Regions from separate parts of the Homo sapiens genome. Here region 1 is linked to region 2. Evidence: fine-mapped expression QTL. A gene starts in region 2. The other region holds a variant in brackets. All regions are shown on one strand. Distances are from middle to middle.

The links. PIP is the estimated chance that this variant, and not a neighbour inherited with it, causes the effect.
Region 1: its variant is the best candidate, but not a certain one, in a credible set for the expression of CDKAL1 in whole blood (TOPMed, PIP 0.51).

The regions. Positions count from the first base shown.
Region 1 is chr6:20,575,041-20,577,968 of GRCh38, forward strand. All of the region lies in intron 4 of CDKAL1 (CDKAL1 threonylcarbamoyladenosine tRNA methylthiotransferase), which reads left to right. LOC124901273 (a long non-coding RNA gene) reads left to right here. Exons shown (of 2, transcript XR_007059491.1): 2 at 1,339-1,470. Among named protein-coding and RNA genes, the nearest start is that of CDKAL1, 42 kb to the left of the region's middle. The variant G/A (reference allele first, on the strand shown) is at 1,612.
Region 2 is chr6:20,533,037-20,535,964 of GRCh38, forward strand. CDKAL1 (CDKAL1 threonylcarbamoyladenosine tRNA methylthiotransferase) reads left to right here and starts at 1,421. Exons shown (of 16, transcript NM_017774.3): 1 at 1,421-1,538; 2 at 2,315-2,358. RefSeq lists enhancers at 1,350-1,509, 1,540-1,619.

The sequences.
Region 1 (2,928 bases), 42 kb after region 2:
GATTTATAAAGCAGAAATTTATAAATCCTTTCTTTTGCTGGGACAAAGGCAATGGTGAAAATTAAAAAAAAATAAAGTTAGGACATTTAGGTAACTCAAAGACAGAACTTAATGGCTGTTAAGATTGGAGTATTTGGTTTTGTAGTTTTTAAACCATATTTAATTTTGGCCATATCTATCTTATTTAGTAGTTTAAAGGATAAACAGTTCAAACAGTAAGAAAAAAGCAGTTTGTGTTTTGTCAGTTTTCAACTTTAGATATCAGTAAATCATTGCTGTAGCTTTCTTTATCTTTTGTTTGCACAAAAAACCTGTTAGAATTATGTCTGCGGGGACCATCTGCTGTGGTTCCCAGTCTTGTCAGTGTGATAAGGGATAAGCTGTATAAACAGGGGCACCACAAAAAAAAAAAAAAAAAAAAAGAAAGCAAACTGCTTTTAGAAGGGAAAAAGTATCCATTTAATTTTATAACATAGCCACAGAAATTCATATGATTTTTCTCATAATCTATCAGAATTGAGGTTGTAATATATTTTTTCAGAAACCACAGGTCCAAGTTATTTCTATGGTTTATCTTCACATTAATATTATATCTTTTTGATTACAGGGTTTCTATTTTGGAGGTCATAGCTTTTAAAAGTTCTTCGAAAATATTTCAGTATAGCACTTGACATTGCAATATTTTTCACATTGTCTGCTTAGTTTCTGGATCTTTTTTTCCCTAGCCATTAATTTTTCTTTCAGTTGAATCCTCAGAAATCATCCTTTTCCTGTTTCATTTGCAAGGAGGTCATGATGCTTCGTAAGGAACAAGGCAGTCATTTCCATGGCAACACACTCTATCAAAACATCACAAATCTGTCGTGCCCCTTACCTTTAAACTCTCAAATGCTAAGAGGAGGAGGTGTGTAAGGAGCAGCATTGTTCTTACAGCATAACTATACGATCACAAGGAGAGGGAAGTCAATTAATTGACTCAAAAGTACCTTAAGTTGACTTAGCTATAGACATATATATGTAAGGAATTTATCTTTTATATTGTATTAAACAGTGTTTTGAGGATGGAAAAATGAACATTCCAAAACTCTGATTTAAAGATCTTATTTAGTGTCTGTGAGAACTGTAAAAGAAGAATAAATAGCTGAGTTATGTCATACATGTAAACATGTTACACAGTTACTCCAGTCATGAGAAGTCTACCTTTGCCTGGAGGCCCCAGCACATGTCTCTGTCAGTCATTTTGGCTTAAGCTAGGATATTTTCAGCATGATAGTGACACCTATCTTTTAAACAAGTTCCAGAATTTTGTCAATTTTCTTTTTCTTTTTAACCATTAAGAGGAGGTGTTAGCAAGATGGCGTGACTCCTGGATATGGAATAGGAGAACAATTGGTGTTTCATCATTACTGAAAATTTTATGCTCTTTGAAATCAGGTATGAAGTATAATAAAAATCAACAGTTTTATGAGATTTTGTGGTAAAGCAATTCTTATTTTATTAACTTCAAGTCTTCTGCATTTTCAGCATTTCATTTTATTCTGTAGCATTTTTACTCCTGGGTAATGCATTTATTTGTGTGACCTGTGAAGATGGTAAATTTTGCAATGCTTA[G/A]CGCCTTCTGTTTCCCCATGTTCCTTGTAGCAAACTCTATGCTAGTCCTTATCATAGAACCTACCTATTGTACTTTAGGAGTCAGCTCACAGGACTGACACCTCCCACTTGACTGTAGCCACCTTGGAGGCAGGAGCTTGCTTTTCTCTGTGTGTGGCGTGGAGCAGGTGTTCAATAATGTTTGTTGAGAGAACAGTGGTCAGAATGAATGGAATTAGTTGTTTGTGATAATGTTTATTTTCTCTATATGGCACAGGTATATATATATTTTAATTTTTTACTGTGTATGTCTAAAATGAGGTTGAAATATGTTCTCCATACCCATTTTGTATTTAACAATTTTTTTGTAGTGTATTTTGAAATCTTGGTAGGCTATTTCCTTTTGCCTTTTCAGGCCTCCATACACTCCTATTACAAGAGGACTTCTGTCTCTGTTCCACATTTCCCTTCGTTGTTGGCGACCTAACCTTGGTGACCGCAAGCGATCGGTTGTGAGAGAAAGAGCTGTAAGTGGGGAAGGCTTTCCGAGTCTATAGGTACTACCTGGTGGCAGTATTAACACATTTTATTATGAACTATTTGACAGAGAAAAGGATTAAGAGAATAAGGACCAGTTATATATCACCTACTCAGATTTAGAAATGAAACATTACTGATATAGCTGCAGCCCTCCATGTAGGGGGCGGGGGTTAGGTGGGAGTATATTTTTCATTTTCACTTTGTACCTTTTTGCTCTACAAAAGCTTCAGACTTCAAAAGAAATCTTTCCTTGCTCTGTGCTTTCATAGTACTACCCCAGGCCTAAGTGTATTATTGAACCTGCCAGTGTATTATAACCATCTGTTCAGATGTCTGTCACCTCTACCAGGCTGTACTTCATCTTTGTATTTTCAGTACCGTACATAATAGCTAGAATGGAATAGGTGCTCAGTAAGTGCTTGTTGTGTGAATGACTGAATGAATGAATAGGTACAATTCTTTTCTCAAAATACCATGTTAATGTAGGATTCTGTTTAGCAAAACTATTTCCTTGTCTAGCCCATAGTTACAGGGCCTTGGTGCTCTGATTTGAACAAATTGAATTAAACATAAAATCCTGTAGAACAGATGCATTTACAAGTCTCTGCTCACACAGCTGCTGGTCTATTTAATAAAAACATTGCTGTTTTGATTGGGTATTCATAGCCTTTCTTTTTGTTAACTCTATTAGTATCATGGTATAAGCAGACTACAGTCTAGGGAAGATGAGTGGAAGAATGAGCCAGTGATCAGAACTCAGAGAGACAATAGGAGATGGATGTCAAGAAGATGGATGGG
Region 2 (2,928 bases):
CTTTTACTGAACTCAACTAGATCTTGGGGGAAAAGGGGTGGAGTCATTCATTCATTCATTCATTCATTCAACATATGTTTATTGAGAAGCTATAAACATAGGCACAAGGTTATGTGCTAGGTAGTGCGATTACAACCAAGAAGATAACCCAGGGCCTACTTTTGGTCTAGTGAAAGAGATGGAATTAGATGGGTATGGTGGTGTGCACCTGTAGTCCCAGCTACTTGGGAGGCTAAGGCATGAGAATCTCTTGAGGCTAGGAGGGAGAGGTTGCAGTGAGCTGTGATGGTAACACTGTACTCCAGCCTGGGTGACAGAAGAAGACCCTATCTAAAAAAAAAAAAAAAAAAAAAAAAAAAGTAGGGCAACATAAATACACAATTTTAATTTAGGTGGGTAAAGACAACAGTGGACCCCAGGGCACAGTTTAGATTATTTTATGGATATGGATAAACAGAGAAAAGGGTGGTTTTTTTTTTTTTTTTTAAATCTATTTTAGAGACTGGGTCTCACTGTGTTGCCCAGGCTGTTTTCAAACTTCTGAGCTCAAGTGATCCTCCCACATCAGCCTCTTGAGTAGATGGATGGCATTTTAATTAGATGAAATTGTACTAGGAAAGGCATTTGCAAAACAAAGTAATTGCCCCAAATCACTATGAAACCCTAAGTCAGGCATAAAACTCACGATTTCTGACCCTTCTTCATGGCCTATTGCCTCCTATTACCTTTACTTTTTCAAGTAAAGATATTCTTCTGGTAAACACATGGTCAAATACAGTGTCTTGGGTAACGAATAGTAAAGTGAGATAACATATGTAGAGAAAGCGGGTGAGAATCCGTACTCCATAAAAGTATTTTCTTTCCATAGGTGTCTGCTAAACTGCCATCTAAGTTTTCCAAAACAAAAAACAAAAACACTTGTGTGGTGCTCAATGATGTATATTAAGTGAAACCTACCAACTGACCTTTATCCTTTCCTTCCTGTTTTTTTAATATTAAAGAAGAGACCTCTTTTCACAAATGATTGAGGAGGCTAGTAAAATGCAGTGAAAAGAGCAAGTTCTTTGGGAGTCAGACAGCATCGGATCCAGCCCAGAGCGCAGCACGACTAGTAGAGTAACTTAGATTAAGTCCTTAAACTTCCAGTGTCCTCTTTTGTAAACTGGGAATAATAATAATAATAAATAAATAGTGAATAATATTTATGCAAAGTACTTAGCACAGTGTCTAACACATAAAAGCTTAGGAGAAGTTGGCTATTAAGCATTTCTAGGAACCCGAGGACTCAGGGTTGTTATTTTAGTTCTTGGAATCAAAGGAACTTGAAGCGTAGTCATTCCTAAACTAAGTTAAACCAGAACTAGCGCTTTCAGCAATGATGTAATTTGATCTCTTCGGGCCACCGTCGCTGAGCATGCGCAAATAAACGTGGCGGGACGTATGTGTCATGGCGCTCTCCATCTAAAGTCTGTGCAGCTTCCGGAGAGTGGCGGGTTGATTTTCTCACTTTGGACTGGTTTTTACTTCCCGACTTCTGGGTAAGGGTGGCCGATGGGTCCATGTGGGGCAGAGTGTGGCCACAGCTCCTTTTATGGCCAAGCCTTGTTTCTCCAGTTTCAGTTTTTCTTGGGCTGTTTGCAAATTTGTTTCGCAGTTAAAAGGGGATTTGCCAGCTGGGATGGGGGAATTGGGAGGCAGATGGGGCTTCCAGGAGCGAGGATAGGGTCGTTGGCCTCAGGTGCCGCTCTCCAGTTAGGAGTATTTTAGGCACCTCGTTCCTTATTGTCAGGTTTAACTTCATTTGTTCTCCCACTTTATACCTTAGTGAATTTGTAGATGTGACAAGGCTTTCGCAGTTATATAGCTTTCCCAGATCAGTATGTTAAGAATTTAAGCAGAAGTTATTGAGAAAAGCAGGTGTCTTGCTTTTTCACTTTTCGTTCTTCTTTGCTCATAAAACCTTTTTCTGAATCTCGGGACGACAGTTATCTTTCGGATGGAACGTGATCTGGATGTCTATCTACCTTATTGACTTAATCCTGTTTTGTAGTGGTTGGTTACTCGCACTATGCAGACGTGTTGCGGTGCTGAATACAACATTTATTACTAAAGCCAGACACTGGATCACCGTCACGGCAGATGTCAGCACACCTGTTGTAATCAGTAAGAAGTTACAAGTAGTATGGAGCATCATTAATCCTGCTGTATAAAGCAGTCTTTTATGGAGTCTGATTCCTTTTAAGTAAAGAATCCTTACAGTGGTTTTGTGAACTTTTTGGGTGCTTACTTTTCCTAATCAATTTTTATTTTCCAGACTCATCTTTCAAGAGGACTTTAGACTAATTGCAGATAATTAAGGTACTGATTTATTTTAAACCTTTTATGTTTGAGTGCTGTGCGTATTTCTGCATGTTAGAAAATGCAGAGAGGTAGCCTAATGTTTTAGCTATTTGCCACTATCATGTTATGGAAACATTGTGCTTTACATAGCATTAAATCGAAGAGATATTTTCATTTATTTTACTTAACCTTTCATTTTCATTCACCAGCATTGACCATGTCCACTTTTTTGAGATGCCCTTTTCATTTGCCTTCCATGGCCCATGGATTTTTTTCCTTGTCTGGTGGCTGCTTCTTGGAATCCATTATAAGCTGATTTTCCTTTATCTGGCAGTTAAATTTGGAGTCTCTCAAGTCGTGGTCTTGTACCTTCTCCTACCTCTGTTCTCTTTTTCTTCCCCTCTGGGTGATGTAATCCACATGCCTGTCAACAGTTATTTGTCTTTTTGATTCTACCCATCCTAATGGGTATGAAGTGGTGTATTATTGTGGTTTGGATTTCCATTTCCCTGATGGCTCATGATGTTGACATCTTTTCATGTGCTTATCAGCCATTTGTATGTGTGTGTTTTTGAGACACGGCTTCCC